Regions from separate parts of the Homo sapiens genome. Here region 2 is linked to region 1. The links come from fine-mapping of genetic effects on gene expression. A gene starts in region 1. The other region holds a variant in brackets. All regions are shown on one strand. Distances are from middle to middle. Region 1 holds the start of RIMS4 (regulating synaptic membrane exocytosis 4). Region 2 has its middle 15 kb from the start of KCNS1.

Region 1 (4,265 bases):
CTACAGAGAAAAATAAAGCAGGGTAGAGAGGATCTGGCATTTCAGGGAGGGGTTTTTGCTACTTCATAAAGAGTGGTGAGGGAAGACTTCAGAGGGAAAGTGACATTTGAGCAGAGATCTGTGAGTGAGCTACACAGCCCTTTGCAAGGGAGAGGGCTTCAGGCAGAGGGAACAGCAGTACAGATGTTCTGAAGCCGAGTGAGCCACCGGGGTGTCCTGGGTATGAAGACAGAGGGGTGGCAGAGCCAAAGAAGTTAGGACCTTGTAGAACATGGACTTTGACTGTGAGATGGGAGGGTTTGGGGCAGAGAAGTGGTCAGTTTCTGGTTACATTTTGTGTATAGAAATGACAGGAGTTGCTGATGGATTGAATGTGGTGTGTGTGAGACTGGAGTCAAGTATCCAACATTTCTGATCCAAACAAGTGGAAAAATGGAGCTGCCATTGACCAAGATGGGGATGATTATACCAGCACTCTTAACCATGACACCAGGCTGCCTCAAAGTCTAGATCTGGTCCCTGGGAAGGGGCTAGGGCTCAGGAGCACCTGCCGAAGGCCAGCACTGTGCTAGGTGTTTTGCACACTGTGATGGGCAGATGTGTCAGAATAACTCCAGTGATCCTTGCCCTTATGTAATACCTTGTGTGATCCCGCCCTTGTGTGAGCATGGGTGGAAACTGCGACCCTGATCAGGAATCGCTACCGTGATTATATTACATTATATGTCAAAGGGACATCATGCGAGTGGACCTGATCTAATCACACGAGACCTTTAAAAGCAGAATCTCTCAGGCCAGTAAGCAGAAGCCAAGGTAGAAAGATTCTACTGAAGGATGAGAAGGGCTTGACATCCTGAAACTGGCCTTGAAGGTGGAAGGGGCCAGGTGAAAGGACCAGAAAGCCACTTCTAGGAGCTGAGGTTGACTTCTGGCTGACAGCCAGCAAGGAAACAGGAACCTCAGTCCTGCAACCACAAGGAACTGAATCCTGCCAACAACCTGAATGATCTTGGAAGCGGATTCTTCTCCAGAGCCTGCAGAGAAGAGCCCAGTCTGGCCAATACTTTGTGAGGCCCTAAGCAGAGAACCCAGCTCAGGCTGCCCAGACTTCTGACCTACAGGATTGTAAATCACTAGATTGGTGTTTTTAAGCTGCTTCATTTGTTATGCAGCAATAGAAAACAAACACCTGTGTTATCTTACAGGCAGTTCACAACCATCCAAAATGGAAGGCTCCTGTCCCCATTGTACAGATGAGGAACAGGACCCATGGGATAAAGAGTTTTGCCATAGGCCACCCAGAAAGACAGCACCACAGCTGAGATTCAAACTCTGGGCTGTCTCTTTCTGAGGCCTGAACTGTTTCCATGTCGCCAGATGGCTTCATAAAGAGGTGTGCGAGCAGCTGAGAAGGTTGTTTGACATCTGGGGCCTGATTAGGTGGGCAGGGACCCTCACGTCCCAGGTCACATGCAGGGAATGGAACACGGGTTTCCGATTCGCTCGTCTCTGTCCTGGGGCTGTGAGTGTCTGAGCCCGTGTGTGTCTGAGGACTGCGGGTCGCCGAGGGTGATAATGGGAGAGTCTGTGAGTGTGAGCCTGCCAAGTGTGTCTCAGTGTACCTGAGTCTGAGGGTGTCAGTCAATCCGTCGGGATGCACCCACACTGGGAGGGATGGAGTCTGTGTGGCTGTGTCTTGGCGTGTGTGTGCTACTCTAGTGTGTCTGAGGGTGAAGGTGTGTGCATCTGGCCGTGTCAGTCAGAGTGTTTGACAGTGCTGAGATGATCACAGGGGGAGGCGACACAGAGTGTGTGCTGGGTCTGGGCTTGTGTGTTCATCTGAGTGTATGAATGTGTGTATGAATTCTGGGGTGTCTTTGGTAAGTGTGAATGCATGAGACTGTGTATGCCTACCTGAACTTCGTGGGGTTTTGTGGCATCTGAGAGTCTCCCCGTGAGGGAGGCCGGGCACCAGGGATGTCCTGCCTACCTCCCTGAGTGTGTTTGCAGGTCTCTGCGTGAGTCTGCGTGTGTCCGTGGACGTGTCTGTCCCCGCATCTGTGAGGGGGTGGGTCTGTGGGTGTATCTGTCCGGGTGTCTGCGGGGCATGTTGCAGAGTGAATGTGTAGGTGTGGGTGCCTGTTTGAGCTTCTCTGTGGGTGCAGGTGTGAAGCCGAGGGTCTCTGTGTGGGAGGCCGAGTGCCGACCCGCCTGGGCGGGACCCTTTGAGCGCATCCCCTCCGAGCGCGCCAGTGTCTCTGGGAGAGGCCTGTCTGGGTGAGGGACTGGACGCCGGCCTCTCCGCAAGTCGGCCGGCTGAGGGTGGGGGCCGAGGCGGGGTCGGGAACAGCCCTCGGACCAGGGCCCAGACAACCTCGCCCGGCGCCTGCCTCCCCGCGCGCACCTGCCGGGCCCGGGGGCTGCTAGAAGAGGCCGCAGCCCGCGCCCTCCGGGCTCCCACGCCCCGCAGCGGCGCCCCCTCCCCCGGCGGCACGGATTGGCTGCGGCGCCGCTCCAAGCCCGCCTCGCGCTGCCGGCGGGGGGCGCCGCGGACCAGAGCGCGCTGCGCCGCCACCGCCGCCGCCACCGCCGCCGCCGCCGCCGCCGCCAGCAGCACAGCGCGCCTCGGGCTCCGCGCGCCGCCAGCTCCTGGCCCGCCCGCCGGCCCCGCCGCGCCCGCCAGCCCCGCAGCGGAGCCTCGGCCCGGCCCCGGGCCGCCGCCACCACGCCGCGCGCCGTACTCCGCGTCAAGAATGGGGCGGCCAAGCTGCCCAAGCCGCCCGCCGCCGCCGCCGCCGCCGCGGCCGAGGCGCCCGGCGCCGGCGCGGGCATGGAGCGCTCGCAGAGCCGCCTCAGTCTGTCCGCCTCCTTCGAGGCGCTCGCCATCTACTTCCCGTGCATGAACTCCTTCGACGACGAGGACGCAGGTAAGCGCGCGGCCCGCCCCCCAGACCCCCGGGGTGTCCCGGGATCCAGGTCCGGTAGCCCCCTCCCCGACCCGTGCGCCCTCCTCCCCACCCCCAATCCCCTGGGAAGGCGCCCCCAGGGTCTCCTTCCGCACCCACGGGACCCCAGGGTCTCCAGGATGCGCTACCTTCTGGCCTTCTCCCCCAGGGACCCCGAGATTGTCTGCATTCACCTTTCCCGCAGGTGGGCCCTTTGGGTCGCCAGGACCCATCTCCCTCCTCACCCGCGCCTATTGGAGGCCCCTTGCCTCGTCCCTGGAGCCGACCTGCCACCCTCCCTGAGTCTCCTGAATGTGCCCACTCTTCAAGCCCTGGGCTTTGGCCGTCCCACCCCTGGGGCTCCGACGCGCCCCCCGCCATTGGAGGTGGCGCGCAGACCTTACCTCTCCATCTTTGTCTTGGCCACATCCAGAGGATCCCTGCCCAAGACCCCTGCCCGGCGCCCCAGGCCTTGAGCGCCCCCATTTATCTCTCCTCTCCTTCCCTCATGGGCTGGGGCTCCAGACTCCTGCTTCTTATACGCCTGGGGCAGACGGAGGGGAACCGGCCAGGTGACGGCCTTTCCTCCCCTCTCTTCCCGGAGAGAGGTGTAGGGCGGCGCCAACTCTACACTTGTCCGCCCGCTGGTGTGTGCCCCTGACCTCAGGTGCTCTTGTCCCTGGAGTCGCCTTTCTTGGTGGGCTGAAGCCGGCCACCAGCCAGCGGCTTGAACCTCCTCCTCCCAGGCCTGCGCACAACCTCAGCCAGAGCGAGGGGTGGGGAGCTGTAGGGAAACCTACTCTTTAGGGCCCTGGGACCCGGCAGAAGGAACATGAGAGCTCCGGATTTGGTTCTGGGGTGAGGAAGGGAATCCACCAACAGGTGGGGTAGCTAGAGGGCTTGGGTGAGAGTTCCCCAAAGAATGCCAGATTGGGAATCGGAATCAGGTTCCAGTCTTCATTCTCTACTTCTTAGCTGTGACCTTGGGCAAGTCATGCCACCTCTGAGCCTGGATTTCCTCATCTCTGAAATGGGGATCATCGTATCGATGCAAAGCTCTGTATGGTGTGAGGGTGGAGTTCAGTGTTTTATAAGGTGAAAATCCGAGAGTCTTTGAATTCAATGGGGGAACAAAACAGAGGAGTGTATGTGCTGGAGGAGTGTATGTGCTTGAGGAGCAAAATGGTTTCATGGGCACTTTCAAGTCTCTGAGGAAAACATGGACTATCTCTCCCGAAGTGCATATATGCACCATCCACAAAATGTAGCCTACGGTTTTAGGAAGTTCCTGGGCCCAGGTTTAGACTTAGTCTTTGGGGA
Region 2 (4,265 bases), 270 kb before region 1:
AAGTTTCTTCAATTCTGTATGGGTCCAGGATTTTTACCTACTGTGTCTACTTGTCATGCTCTAGGCCAAACTGATCCCCACCTTCCAGCTAAGTAGCCTTGAGGGATGGGGCAAGCAGAAAATTGTGAGCTTTCTCCTCTAAGAAAAGGTGTGAATTGTTTGCACCCAGTGTTTTAGAGAGCTTTCAGTTTTCTCCCACATCCTCTCATATGATCATTCCACTTGTCATAATCCCACTGCCTATTAATGCCTAACTTCACAAAGTGCAGCAGGGCTGTGAATTCAGCAGCCTGCATCATCAATTGCCAACTTTGGTATTTGGAGAACTAGGCCCTACTGCAAGTCATAAGAGAGTCTTTTACCGTAGTCATAGAAATGCTGTCCGTTCATTCTGTTTATGAATTTTTTTTATGTTAAAAAAAAAGGCATTGGGGCTTCCTTTGTTGACTCTCCCTTTATATTAATCTATGTGGTTAGAAACAAAATACTCTATCACACAGCCTGAACACTCCTCACTTCCTTAAAATTAACTGTGACACGTGTTATCCCTTCTCTGAGAGCCTCCTCAGTGGTCAGATGCTATGAAGTAATGTAAGACATAGGTCTTTACCATTGCAGACCATTGCTGGCTTCCCAGACTAGAGCATGAGCAACAACCTCATTGTATTTTGCCCCATCACAGTCTTAGGAAATATCCCACATTTCCTAGAGGATATGGTGTCTACAACTCAACTCTAGTTCCAATTTCTGTATCAGTTAGGAATTTTTGGTTGCAAACAACAGAATCCAACTCTGGAAAACTTAAGCCAAAAAAGGACTGCATTGGAAAGGTACTGGATAGGATCAAAGTCAAATTAAACAACAAGGCTTTGAGAAAGACAGCAATTCGAGCAACATAGGGATTGAGGTAGGTAAAACTCATAAATCACCTCTTTGGGGCACTACAATTAAAATAGCTTAGTGACAACTGCCTCCATTGTATAAATCACTCTGCTCAAGCTAAAAAATTCTCTGAAGATTGAGTCTAACTAGACTGGTTTGGGTCATATGCTCATCACATGATTTCGGGGTGAGATGGGAGGAACTATCACAGACAGTCCCACCAGGACATAGATGGCAGAGGGGTAGCTCCCTGAAGGAAGATGAGGGTCCTTTCATTAAAATGAGGGGAAAGGATCCAGGGGAGACAAAACCAACACATATCTTTTACAATACCACTGAGTGAGAATGGCAGCCAGGCAGCTTGGTTTCAGCAACGACGAAATCAAGAATGAGAGAGAGAGACAGAGAAACAGATAGACAGACGGAGAAATTGGTTTCTGCATCACATGGTAGATAACAGGGTTACCAACATCTCCCAGTTTGGTATCTTGTAGCGCCTCCACTAGAGAACTTCCCATTTCCAGTTTGAAAAATCTGATTGGCCCAGAGATTGGTCACCTTGGGTGAGATGACTGGATCACTCAACTGTGGCGAAGGGGTTGGATCATGTGAACCTATGGCTGGGGTAGGAGTCAAGCAGTTCCCAGAAGAGGGAGTACAGGACGGATCTCATAGTAATCCCTTGCAGTCTTGCTCTCTTGGTCTTCAGTTTCAACTTCTGTAAAATGGAAGGATAATGTCCAGAGATGTTAGGGAGCAACTGGGGGCATGTGGGACAGCTCAGCACATCTGGGCTCTGAGATGTGATGTGCTTGTTGTTAATGATAAACAAACTGAGTTTCCCCCTCTTTGCAGTGACCTCAAGGTGGCGACTTCCCTTGTGAGTGAGACATAATATTCCTTAGGGATTATCAGATTGAAGATCTGCCCCCTCTCCAGCCCCATTTTACAGATCAGAAAAGAGAGACCCAGAAGTCCAAGGTCAGACAAGAAGCAAATCCCATTCCTCAATCCCTTTGAGTAAGAAGAGCTGTTCAGCTCAAATAAGGGCCAAGCAGGGTGTTTACACTGGGACATCAGAGTGGAAGACTCCAGTTGACTTATATGGTACTCTTTGAAGCCCCCAAGAGTGAAGATAGCCTAGCAAATAATAGTCATCCTCCACATATCCTTGTCACTGTAATTTGCAAAGTGGTTTCACATACATTATCTCATATACTTCTCACAACAACTCCACAAGACAACAGCAACAACAATAAAATAGTAGTATCACCACTGAACAGATGAAAAAACCAAGATCCATGGTCAGACAGTTAAAAAGTAGCAGATCAGGGATTCAAACTCAGGCTTTTTAATACCAGATTGTACTCACTCAGCACCACTTCCCACTATTATCACTTTGTCTGGTAAACTTAACTCCCCAGGCACCACTGAAGGAAGTGGCTTTGAAGTGTGCGTCCTATAATGAGTTTCTTCTATCTGAAGGCTCTGGAAACAGCCCTGAGGTGCTGGCTGGGATGGTCCTCAATACCAGACCTCATACTTCAGGCCAGTCCGGCCCTGC[C/T]TGTGTGGAAAGAATTCTCCAGGAAGTTAGTAAGTTGAGAAGATAATCTTCTAAGACAGGAGTCTTTGAGAAGGAAGGGGAGGGGGTGGCACAGGGAATGTCTTTCAGAATCCTGTCTGCTAGAAAGGAAGAAAAGGACAAGGGCAGTTGTAGACTGGTATTTAACCTTGCTCAGAAGGGTAGAGTTCAGAACCCTCAAGAAATTCATTCATTCAAGAGGAAGAATTGCACACACCTTGGTTTTTGAAGTCACATCTGGGTTCAAATATTGGCCCTGCCACTCATCAGTGTGTGACCCTAGATTGGACCTGTTGACCTCTAAGGGGTATTATTATCAGGACCAACCCCCAACTGGTATCCAACCCCCACCCCACCTCCCTGCCATCTTTTCCTACATACCTAGATCAATAAGGAATCTTTCAGGTACAAGTGAAAGAGACCCAACAAAGTGACTTAAGTACAGGTGGATCCAGAGGTTCCACTGAAGTCATCTTGTCATTTTTCCCTGCTTCTCTCTCTGCTCTGTGTTTCTGTGTTGGCTTCAGACAGTGAGTTATTTACAATATTTGAATAAAATGGGAGAATATGAGGGATGCCATGCGATGCAGAGGAAAGAATGTGGTTAAGTCCAGCAAGTTGGGCTTGAATCTGCTTCTTATGAGGTGTGTGATCTTGGTTGGGTTTCTTTGTCTCTCTGAGCCTGTTTCTTCACTTATCTTGGTTTAATAACACCTACACCTCAGAGCGTTATGGGCAAGTTCAAGTAAGATAATATGTATGAAAATGCCTGGCACAAGGTTAAATATTAAAGAAGCCCAAAAAATGCAAAGCAAGGAAATAGAGCTCAGCAGCCTCTACCAGGGCTCTTGTTTTCCTCTGGAGGGCAAAGCAACTCCAAGCAGAGGGCACTGGGAAAGGAAGGGGTTTGCTTATCTAGAGATCACAACCTGGACTCACACTTGAGGCCATAGTTGGGGTCCTGGAGTGAACACTGGAGTCAAGAAGCCTAAGTTTGAATCCAGACTTGACACTGCCAAGTCTTGGGCCTCTGTTGGATCATTCATCAGAACAAGATGTGGCTGGGATAAATGCTCATGGGCTAAGAGTAACCACCCCTTACATCTGCAGAGGCCTAGGTAGTTTCCAAGGGGCCTTCCCATCCATGGTCTTGGAAGCTTCTAAAAGAGCCCAGTGGAGTAGAAGGCAAAAAGTCTTGTTTATTCAAGTATAAAATACATATGGGAAAAAAAAGCACAGATCCTAAGAGTTCACATTGATAAATTTTCTCATCATGAACACACTTGTGTAACAAGCACTCAAAGAATTAGAACCTGAGTAGCACTGTAGTCCCTCCTCATACTCACATCCAGTCACTACCCCACAACCAACAAAGGCAATCGTTGCCCTGACTTTTAACATCATAGAGTAGGTTTCCTTGGTTCTGAACTGTATATAAAAAGAATTGCACAGTATGTACTAGTTTGTATCTGGATTTTTTATTGTGGCAAAATACATATAGAATTTACCATTTCAACCATTTTTAAGTGTAAAGTTCTGTGGCATTAAGTACACTCACATTGTTGTAAGAACATCTGTCTCCAGAGCTTTTTCATCTTCCTCAACTGAAACTCTGGGCCCATTAAACACTAACTCCCCATCCCTCTCTCCCTCCCTCTGCCAACCACCATTCTACTTTGTCTCTATGAAGAGACCTTGCTACTCTAGGTACCTTATGTAAGTCCAATCATGTATTTGTCCTTTTGTGACTGGTTTATTTCACTTAGCATAATGTCCTCAAGGTTCATCCATGTTGCAGCAT

The links. PIP is the estimated chance that this variant, and not a neighbour inherited with it, causes the effect.
Region 2: its variant is the best candidate, but not a certain one, in a credible set for the expression of RIMS4 in thyroid (GTEx, PIP 0.84).

The regions. Positions count from the first base shown.
Region 1 is chr20:44,808,837-44,813,101 of GRCh38, reverse strand. It overlaps RIMS4 (regulating synaptic membrane exocytosis 4), which reads left to right and starts at 2,556. Exons shown (of 6, transcript NM_182970.4): 1 at 2,556-2,927. The coding sequence starts at 2,831.
Region 2 is chr20:45,083,593-45,087,857 of GRCh38, reverse strand. No RefSeq gene overlaps it. Among named protein-coding and RNA genes, the nearest start is that of KCNS1, 15 kb to the left of the region's middle. The variant C/T (reference allele first, on the strand shown) is at 2,447.